2 separate regions of the Homo sapiens genome follow, and region 1 is linked to region 2. The links come from fine-mapping of genetic effects on gene expression. A gene starts in region 2. The other region holds a variant in brackets. All regions are shown on one strand. Distances are from middle to middle. Region 1 overlaps ZAN (zonadhesin). Region 2 holds the start of TRIP6 (thyroid hormone receptor interactor 6).

Region 1 (5,371 bases), 120 kb after region 2:
TACCTGTACTGGATCTGGAGGTTGTGGTAGTGCCCAGAATCACACTGGTCATAGGGGTACTTGGAGCATGTGGAGACATCACCAAGGCTGCCAGCCCAGTGGCTGTGGGGCTGGGATGGGGTGGCCTCAGGGCTGTGAGCTTCTCTGTGGGAATGGTGGGTTTTTCTGTGGGGATGGTGGGTTTTTCCGTGGGGATGGTAAGTTTTTCCGTGGGGATGGTGGGTTTTTCCGTGGAGATGGTGGGTTTTTCTGTGGGGATGGTGAGTTTTTCTGGGGAGATGGTGGGTTTTTCTGTGGGGATGGTGAGTTTTTCTGTGGAGATGGTAGTCTCTTCAGTGGGGATGGTGGGTTTTTCCGTGGGGATGGTGGGTTTTTCCGTGGAGATGGTGGGTTTTTCTGGGGAGATGGTGGGTTTTTCTGTGGGGATGGTGAGTTTTTCTGTGGAGATGGTAGTCTCTTCAATGGGGATGGTGGGTTTTTCCGTGGGGATGGTGAGTTTTTCCGTGGGGATGGTGAGTTTTTCTGGGGAGATGGTGGGTTTTTCTGTGGGGATGGTGGGTTTTTCTGTGGAGATGGTGGGTTTTTCCATGGGGATGGTGAGTTTTTCTGTAGAGATGGTAGTCTCTTCAACAGAGGTGGTGGTTTCTTCAGTGGGGAGAGTGGGTTTTTCCATGGGGATGCTGGGTTTTTCTGTGGAGATGGTGGTCTCCTCAGTGGGGGTGGTGGGCTCTTCTGTGGAGATGGTGGGTTTTTCTGTGGGAATGGTGGGTTTTTCTGTGGGGATGGTGGGTTTTTCTGTGGGGATGGTGAGTTTTTCTGGGGAGATGGTGGGTTTTTCTGTGGGGGTGGTGGGTTTTTCTGGGGAGATGGTGGGTTTTTCTGTGGGGATGGTGGGTTTTTCTGTGGGGGTGGTGGGTTTTTCTGGGGAGATGGTGGATTTTTCTGTGGGGATGGTGGGTTTTTCTGTGGGGATGGTGGGTTTTTCTGGGGAGATGGTGGGTTTTTCTGTGGAGATGATAGTCTCTTCCATGGAGATGGTGGGTTTTTCCGTGGGGATGCTGGGTTTTTCTGTAGGGATGCTGGGTTTTTCTGTAGGGATGACAGGCTCTTCCATGGAGGTGGTGGTCTCCTCAGTGGGGGTGGTGGGCTCTTCTGTGGGGACGGTGGGTTTTTCTGTGGAAATGGTGGGTTTTTCTGAGGGAATGGTGGGTTTTTCTGAGGGAATGGTGGGTTTTTCTGTGAGGATGGTGGGTTTTTCTGAGGGAATGGTGGGTTTTTCTGAGGGCATGTTGGGTTTTTCTGAAGGAATGGTGGGTTTTTCTGTGGAGATGGTGGGTTTTTCTGTGGGAATGGTGGGCTTTTCTTTGGGGACTGTGGGCTTTTCTGTGGTGACACTGGGTTTTTCTATGGAAACTGTAGGTTTCTTGGTGGAGATTGTAGGGTTTTCTGTGAGGCCAGTGGTTTCAGAAGGGCCAGTGGAAGAAACTGGAGATACGGGAGGAAGCTCTGGTAGCACTTTTACTGCAAAGAAAAATAAGAATCCCTGGAGTTTAGTCAAAACCATACCACCACCCTCTTTACTGCCATCTAACTGGAGTGGGCTCCCATGGGTGGCTTATTCACACCTCTCTTTCTACTCCCAAACCCCAACCTTCATCCACTCAACGAACACTAATATATGTCAGATATTATGCCAGAAATGAATAGGATATGGGTCCAGCCTTCAAGACTGCAGAGGAAGGAGTTCTGGATCCAGCCCCCAAAATCCATGGTATCGAAGCCACATTCACCCAGGCAAACATCTTGAAGTGCAGGGGAAGGAGAGGTGTGTTGAAGATGGAAAACAAAGCCAGCTGGGTGAGAATTCGGGCTCCAGGGAGGACTCACATTTTAAGCAGTTCATAGAGAGAACTCCAGGGAACCTCAGGGCACCGCCCCCTTCCTGGAGCCTGGGCTTTGGTCTTACCTGGACAAGTCCCAGGATTGATCAAGATGAAACCCATAGCAACCACAGAGGCCGTGTTGCTTCCCTGGATGCCCTTGAAAATAAGCTAAAGGCGACAAGGGAGAGAGACGGAGAGAGAAACAAAAATGAATCTCCAGCAACTCTGTGATTCCACTGGGCATAGAATCTGTTCTCTGCCAAAATGTCGCCTTGTTCCAGCCTCAACAGTCCAGCCCCATCCCGGCCCCTTTCTCACTTTCTGTAACACGAAGTTCCCCTTTTCTCGGCTCTCTTTCCAGCTTTCCACCTCTTCAGCACTGGTGGCGCCCCCAGATCCCAGGCATTGGCCCTCTCACCTCACACAGACAGGACCCCCGCCTCCGTCTCTCACCTGCATGGGCTGTTGGTGTCCTGAGGGGACGGTGACGGAGGTGTTCTGCCAGTAAGGGCGCTGAGACCCCACGCGTTTCCAGAGAGGAATCGGGGGACTCCCCGCAGGACTTCCCAGGAGGAGTTCGAGCATAGTACCCTCCCCAAGGCCATACATGTGGTATGCGAACTCCACGCAGATGTCACCTGGGGCGCAGAAGGGCCGGCTCACCAGTCTGACTGACTGGCCTGCCTGGGAGAACTCGTCAGCCTCAAGGTAGATATAGTGACCCCCTAGGCAAAGGAAGGGAACAGGCAAGGTAAGAAGCCTGCACAGGACATGCCAACTGCTGCTTTAGCAAAGCTTTGCTTTCTGAACGGGAATCTGAGCAAACACTCAAATTTCCCAGGT[C/T]GTAGCATTATTTTTTCTGCTCATTTTAGACATCTAACTAAAGAAGGTGGGATCACAAAGAAAGGGAAAAGCGGCCAGGCACGGTGGCTCATGCCTGTAATCCCAGCACTTTGGGAGGCCGAGGCTGGCGGATCACGAGGTCAAGAGATCAAGGCCATCCTGGCCAACATGGTGAAACCCCGTCTCCACTAAAAATACAAAAATTAGCTGGGCGTGGTGGCCCGTGCCTGGAGTCCCAGCTACTCGGGAGTCTGAGGCAGGAGAATTGCTTGAACTCCGGAGGTGGAGGTTGCAGTGAGCCAAGATCACGTCACTGCACTCCAGCCTGGCAACAGAGCAAGACTCCATCTCAAAAAAGAAAAAAAGGGAATAACAAACCAGCAACCTAGATTACATTCATTAATGTCGTGTGTGTGTGTGTGTGTGTGTGTGTGTGTGTGTGTGTGTTGTTTTTTTGAGATGGAGTCTCGCTCTGTTGCCCAGGCTGGAGTGCAGTGACACGATCTCAGCTCACTACAACCTCCACCTCCCAGGTTCAAGCGATTGTCCTGCCTCAGCCTCCCAAGTAGCTGGGATTACAGGTGTGTACCACCATGTCTGGCTAATTTTTGTGTTTTTAGTAGAGGTGGGGTTTCACCATGTTGGCCAGGCTAGTCTTGAACTTTCGGCCTCAAGTGATCCACCCGTCTCAGCCTCCCAAAGCATTGGGATTACAGGTGTGAGCCACTGCACCCCACCCTCATTATTGTCTTTTTAAAAAATTATTTCTTTATATATATATATGTGTGTGTGTGTATATATATATGTGTGTATATATATGTGTGTGTGTGTATATATATATATATATATATATATTTTTTTTTTTTTGAGACGGAGTCTCACTCTGTCACCCAGGCTGGAGTACAATGGCGTGATCTCGGCTCACTGCAAGCTCTGCCTCCCGGGCTCACGCCATTCTCCTGCCTCAGCCTCCCGAGTAGCTGGGACTACAGGCGCCCACCACCATGCCTGGCTAATTTTTTGTGTTTTTAGTAGGGACGGGGTTTCACCGTGTTAGCCAGGATGGTCTCGATCTCCTGACCTTGTGATCCGCCCTCCTTGGCCTCCCAAAGTGCTGGGATTACAGGTGTGAGCCACTGCGCCCAGCCTCTTTTTATATATTTTTAAGACAGAATCTTACTCTGTTGCCCCGGATGGAGTGCAGTGGTGCGATCTCAGCTCACTGCAGTCTCCACCTCCTGGGGTCAGGCAGTTCTCCTGCCTCAGCCTCCTGAGTAGCTGGGACTACAGGTGCACGCCACCACTCCCGGCTAATTTTTACATTTTTTTTAGTGGAGTCAGGGTTTCACTATGTTGCCCAGCTGGTCTCGAACTCCTGACCTCAAGTGATCCACCTGCCTCGGCCTCCCAAAGTGCTGGAATTAAAGGCGTGAGCCACCATGCCTGGCCTATTTTTTTATTTTTAATTTTTAGAGACAAGGTCTTGCTCTGTTGCCCAGGCTGGAGTGCACTGGTTCAATCATAGCTCACTGCAGCCTTGACTTCTGAGCTGAAGCGATCCTCCCACATCAGCCTCGCAAGTAGGTGGGACCACAAGCACACACCACCACATCTAGCTAATTAAAAAAAAATTTTTTTTTCTAGAGATGGGGTTCTCACTATGTTGCCCAGGCTGAGCTCAGACTCCTGGGCTCAAGCAATCTTCCCGTCTCGGCCTCTCAAAGTGCTGGAATTGCAGGCATGAGCCACTCATAAACGTCTAGACTGAAAATGAGGTGGTGGGTTTTGAAGCTTTGGGCTCCATGAAGTGAGATGCCTGGGTTTTCTCAGGATTTCAGTGACCCCCCAGCCCTGAGAATCTTTAAGTTACTCTGCTATCTCCACAATTCCAGTACCATGGAAACTTCCGAAAAAACACCTGTGGACTGATCTTCCCACTGCCTGAAACAACGTCTCCCATCAGTCACAGCAGCCAGCCTGCTACCTGGGAGCAGACTGAGTGATTTCTTGGCGTGAGCGCTCCTCAATCTCCTCACCTGCATTAGGGAAACCTCCCGCAGGGCCCATGCCATGGACGGGTCCATTTTTATGTCCGAGGGCCCAGTGTCCACCATCCCCGGAAGTCTGGACCCAGTCACAGAAGGGATGGGCGTTGTCTTCAAAGTCACACTGAGGAAAACCCTCTGGGGGATCAAAATAGGATATTTGAGCAAGTTGAGTGACGCTCTCCAGCCCTCCCCCAGCCCACCCCGGATTCTGAGAGATCCGGGCCTCTCAGGGCCTGCTCTCACCCCCACAAGGAGCAATGCTGGTTGCATCAACTGCCACAGCTGGCTCTGGGGTCTTTCCAAAAACGCCTACCACGGCAAACTGGAGAGAAAGGGAGATGGAGCAGGAGTGAGCACACAGCCCACACCCCCAAGCCCCTGATCTAACTCGACTCCATTCCAGGACCCAGAATCCCTACTCCCTGTGCCCAGACCCTCAATTCAGTTCTTTCTTTCTTTTTTTTTTTTTTTCAGAGTCTTGCTCTATTGCCCAGGCTGGAGTACAGTGGTGTGATCATAGCTCACTGCAGCCTTGACCTCCAGGGCTCAAGTGATCCTCCCACCTCAGGCTCCCTAGTAGCTGGGACTACAGGCACA
Region 2 (5,371 bases):
CCCCGCTGGGCGGGTGGTTCATGTCGTGAACCAGCTTCTTCGTCAGCCTATCCAGCTCATCCTCTGGAGGCTGGCTCAGGGGCACCTGGAAGGTGGGAATCGGGCTCGGTCCTACTCTAGCTCCTGATGCTGTAATACCAGGGCCCTCAGCCGCCAGGCCATGGCCTGTTAGGAACTGGGCCACACAGCAGGAGCTGAGCAATGGGCAAGCAAAGCTTCATCTGTATTTACAGCTGCTCCCCATCACTTGCATTACCGCCTGAGCTCCACCTCCTGTCAGATCAGCAGCGGCGTTAGATTCTCATAGGAGCATGAACCCTATTGTGAACTGTGTGTTCGAAGGATGTAGGTTGCAAGCTCCTTATGAGAATCTAATGCCTGATGATCTGTCACTGTCTCCCATCACCCCCAGATGGGACTGTCCAGTTGCAGGAAAACAAGCTCAGGGCTCCCACTGATCCTACATGATGGTGAATTGTATAATTGTTTCGGTATATATTACATTGTAATATACATTGTAATATATACCGAAACAATTATATATACTATATATTCTATTATTATTATAACAGAAATAAAGTGCACAATGAATGTAATGTGCTTGAATCATCCTGAAACCATCCCCCTCCCACCCCCTCCCATCCCCCTCCCCAGTCCATGGAAAAATTGTTTTCCCCAAAACTGGTCCCTGGTGCCAAAAAGATTGGGGACTGCTATAATGTCTCTGAAGGTGGCCAGGCAGTTCCAGCTAGAAAGCTCATCTGAGAACATCTCAGCCCAGGGGCCCGTAGGCAGTTCTTTTTTTTTTTTTTTTTTTTTTTTGAGACAGAGTTTTGCTCTTGTTGCCCAGGTTGGAGAGCAGTGGTGCGATCTCGGCTCACCGCAACCTCCACCTCCCAGGTTCAAGTGATTCTCCTGCCTCAACCTCCCGAGTAGCTGGGATTACAGGCATGTGCCACCATGCCTGGCTAATTTTGTATTTTTAGTAGAGACGAGGTTTCTCCATGTTGGTCAGTGTGGTCTCGAACTCGTGACCTCAGGTGATCCACCCACCTCAGCCTCCCAAAGTGCTGGGATTACAGGCATGAGCCACCGCGCTCAGCCCCAATGGGCAGTTCTATCCTGCTCCCCCGCACTGCCCTGCCCTTACCTATTCCACGTCCCAGACCTCTGACTCTGCTCCAAAACCAGCCCCTTGGCCAGGCGCGGTGGCTCAGGCCTGCAATCCCAGCACTTTGGGAGGCTGAGGCAGGCGGATCACCTGAGGTCGGGAGTTCGAGACCAGCCTGGCCAACAAACTGGGGTTTTAGTGAAACCCCGTCTGTACTAAAAATACAAAAATTAACCAAGCGTGGCAGCGTGTGCCTGTAATCCAGTTATTCAGGAGGCTGAGGCAGGAGAATCACTTGAACCCGGGAGGCAGAGGTTGCAGTGAGCCAAGATGGCACCACTGCACCCCAGCCTGGGCAAACAAGAGCAAAACTCTGTCTCAAAAAACAAAAAAGCCCCCTAAAACACCACCAGCCACCCCACCCAGTCGGTGTCCCATTGTCTGTAGGGCCTGAAATCCCAGTTCCCCAGGGCTCACCTGGGGCCCGTGCTCGCCTCCTCTTCCTCTTCCTGCAGGGCCAGAGACCCCAGCAGCTTCCTCTTTGGCCCCTGGCCCTGGCTCTCTCTGGCTCCTATAGCCAGGCCCCCAGACTTCACCTCGGCCTGGGAGAGGAAAGTGGGGGCCCGGGAGGGGCCCAGAGGCCTGAGAGGCTCCCCGCCTGGGTGGGCCGCAGCCCCTCACTGGCTGTGCCACCTTCACTTGCACGGGGAAGGCTGGGCCAGCCGGGGTGCTGGCGGTAGTGTAAGAGGCTGGAGTGGGGCCCCCATAGGGAGACGCTGGGAGCGGCGAGGCTGGATTTGGCTTCAGGGAGCCCGTGCGGTAGGCAGGAGGTGGCGGGGGCTCATATGCCTGAGGAGAAACGCAGGCCAGAAGTCGTAAGCAAGGACCCCACTCCAAGACCCACATTTGTGGAAATGACCCTGGCTGTGGGGAAGCACAGGCTTTTTGCATTTGACAAGGTCCCGTCCTCAAGTGGCTGACATGTTGGTACTTGCAGCCACGCTTCCTCCATGCTGGGGTGCACATTACACACATGGGGGATCGATCAGGCTGGGTCTGAGAGTCCAGAGAAGGGGGCAGGGTGCTGACGGGGAGGAGGGGCAGAGTCACCTGTCGGTCTGGTCGCCGTGACGCATGACCCCGACCCCCATTCAGCTCGGCCAGCGTGCTGCTCAGCAAGTCTATCTCGGCGTCCAGGCTTCCAGGGCGAAGGCCCCCCCTGTCTGCAGGGAGCCCCTGAGGATGGAGCCAGGGCAGGAAGAATGCAAATCACCATAGGCCTTCTCCTGTCCTGGGTCCCTCAGACTCGGTTCTGGGGGATCCCACATGTCCCACCCCACGATCCCGGGTCTCACCTGCGTGTGCTGGAGTACTCCATGGGACCCCACCCACGCCGGCCCCCGATCCTCCGGTCCCCCTGGGGCCTGGTAACACTGCTCAGATGGAAGGGGGCAAAAATTGACCCTGGGGTGGGGCTGGAGTGCTGGGTTGAGGGAAGAGAAATCAAAGGTGGGGTGGCGGAGGACAGGAGGGGTGTATATTTGAGGAGCCACCCTCTCCGCCTCTCGTTACCTCCTCCCCCAAATCTAGGGTCCCAAGAGAGCGCAGGCGGCTGTTCCCCCCGCCTCGGCTTGGGGAAGGGGCAGGAGGAAGCAGCCAGGGCGGGAGGCTGGAGCGGTAGGACAGAGGTGAGCGCCACAGCTGGGTGGCTCTTCTGTCTCACAAGGGCTGCCTTACCTGCTCCGTGGGCCGGTGGTGGCCCCGGGGTGCCGCGGGGGATCGCCCTCCCCTGAGGGGCTCTGGCGGGCTCCGGCTGCTTCGGGGGCAGCCAGGTGGGCCCCGACATGGCCTGGAAAGGGGGACTCCAGACAGCGGTCTTGAAGCCCCGAGCCTCTGGCCTTCACCCCCTCTTCCGTCCCGCACCTCGTTTGGGACTCCAGAAAAGAAAACTTTTTCTGGCTTTTTTTTTTCCTCTTCCTCCCTAATTTTGGGGACGACCACGCCTCCGATGACGTCACCACATTCCTGGGGGAGGGTCACGTGGCCCCCTAGGCCCTAAACTGCCATTTCTCCCTGAGTCAGCCCCCTCCTGCCGAGAGGGGAGGGCTCTCCGGGGGATCCCGAGTCACTGGGGGTTGCGGGCAGCTGGGGATGGGAGGTGCGGGCCCGAGCCAGCCTCCAAGTCCACGGATGCGTCCGGGCCCCGCACCCCAGCCCTGCACGTGGCAGCCTCGCGGCGGGAGGCTGAAGGCTCCGATCTCCACCCCTCTGCAGAGCTCTCCATTCCCACCCCCTCCCTCTCAGCTACCCACCAGCACTGCTCAGCCAGCCTGTAGTGTTTTGGTCTTTTATTCATGGTCAGCAGAGTTAGAAAAATAAAACAGAACGAAAACATCACCACCCCAGTGGGCCGGTGAGTCTGGCCAAAATGGGGAAACTGAGGTAGCCCAGAGTCACAGAGGAGGCCTGGCCCCTAGCATCAAGGCACCAGTGAAGGGAGGCTGCGGACTCCCTCCCCTGCACGGTGGGGACAGCCACCCAGAGTTAGTGTGCTGGGGTCCCTCTGCCAAAGGAGGTGGGCGTGATGCCCAAGCCCAGGATCCCCTTCAAACCTCCCCTGGGCTCCACGTCCCAAGGGCAGGGCCACGGGCCACAGTGGCCTCCTCTTCCTCCTCCTCCAAGGATCAGGATAGGCCGCCTGCCTGGGCCCTCTCTACCTAGCCCTGGAGGCAGGGGCATCACAGATCAGTGCAGGTGACTGGAGTGACCCCATGAACCAGCAGCGTGGGGCCCAGGTCTCGGGTTAGAGTCTCCAGTAGCGCCAGGTAGCGGGGGTATCGGGCGGGATCGGCTGGCGGCCGAGGCAAGTACAGGAAGGTGAGGGCTGTGATGGGGCCCTCAGCATCCCCACCCTCCGGCCCACCCGGCCCTCCTCCTGTGCCGCGCCCCTGCTGGGCCCGAACCAGGGCGTTGGCGCTGCGTGCCAGGGCCTCTGCCTCTGCGTCTCCCCGCCCACTGTTCACAAAGTCCCCTTCCTCCTCCGCCTCGGGTTCCCCAGCCCCGGCCCCCTCGCCCCACACCACCTCCTGCACCTCAGCCCGGATCCTCAGTTGGCTCAGCAGTGCCCGCAGCCGCCCCTCGGCCGCCCCAGGCGCCTCCCGAGGCCCCAGGCACAGGAAGATCCGGAGCCGGGCGCTATGCCAAGCGGGCACCATGCCCAAGATGGTTGCCATCTGCAGCAGGAAGAGGCCGCAGACATCCACATAGCCGGGCCCACCCCGGGGCCGCAGCAGGTTGAGGGGCCACACGTCCACATGGTGCAGCTGAGAGGTGCCCCCAGACCCCCGGCTCAGCCGCTCAGGGGGCAAGGCCCCGCTGGCCCGGGCCAGCACCACATTCTTGTTCATCTTGAGGGCGTCGGCCACCGTGGCCACATAGTCCTGGGGATTGAGGGCCCGGGGGCTCCCAGGAGCCCGGGGAGGAGGGAACAGGGTGCTCAGAGCTGGGGAACTGCCCTCCCTGGTGCTGTCTGCAGGCTCAGAGAAAGCCGGGTCCGTCAGGAAATGGTCCTGCGGTGGAGCGTCATCGTAGAAACCTAGGACCAACGTGTTGGGCTTCATGCCACCTGGGGGCAGAGCGGGGAAGGCAGGAACAGACAGGAGTCAGGCTCACAGGCTAAGTTTACACCACGCTCCCACACACTGACAGCAAGGTGCGTCAGCCATAGGTATGACATTCCCACTGTGTACGGGCTCTTACGGCAACATTCTGCATATTTGCATAAAGACTTTTCATTTTTCCTAAACACTTTCACATGCATTTATTTTATTATCTCAGTGACTAATCTCCTCCACTTAAACAGGCAAAGTTCGCCTTAGGATTCTTGCCACTAATGAGCACTCCAATTCTATGGAGAGGAGGATGCTGTCCACTCCCGGCTTCTAGCGGGGCATCTGTTTCACGGCAGGGGATGCGAGTTTGACTCTGTTGTGCAAACCAGACACCCTGATCAGCCAAGCTCATGACCTGAATCCCCAGGGTAATAGCGTCCCAGACTCTGCAATGGGAAGATGAAAAAATGGACCAGGCAGGGCACCGTGGCTCACACCTGTAATCGCAGCATCTTGGGAAGCTGAGGCACGTTGATCACCTGAGATCAGGAGTTTGAGACCAGCCTGGCCAATACGGTGAAATGCTATCTCTACTAAAAATACAAAAATTAGCCGGGCATTGTGGTGGGCATCTATAATCCCAGCTACT

The links.
Region 1: its variant is fine-mapped to the expression of TRIP6 in whole blood (INTERVAL, PIP 0.96).

The regions. Positions count from the first base shown.
Region 1 is chr7:100,747,862-100,753,232 of GRCh38, reverse strand. It overlaps ZAN (zonadhesin), which reads right to left. Exons shown (of 48, transcript NM_003386.3): 10 at 5,018-5,096; 11 at 4,763-4,909; 12 at 2,337-2,608; 13 at 1,967-2,051; 14 at 4-1,521. Among named protein-coding and RNA genes, the nearest start is that of ZAN, 17 kb to the right of the region's middle. The variant C/T (reference allele first, on the strand shown) is at 2,727.
Region 2 is chr7:100,865,084-100,870,454 of GRCh38, reverse strand. TRIP6 (thyroid hormone receptor interactor 6) reads right to left here and starts at 3,068. Exons shown (of 9, transcript NM_003302.3): 1 at 2,849-3,068; 2 at 2,467-2,594; 3 at 2,222-2,347; 4 at 1,589-1,960; 5 at 1-85. The coding sequence starts at 2,957. SLC12A9 (solute carrier family 12 member 9) reads right to left here. Exons shown (of 14, transcript NM_020246.4): 14 at 3,445-4,736. The coding sequence ends at 3,850. It overlaps MIR6875 (microRNA 6875), which reads right to left and starts at 2,419; the gene lies at 2,348-2,419. RefSeq lists an enhancer at 2,281-2,380 and silencers at 2,821-2,970, 3,331-3,420.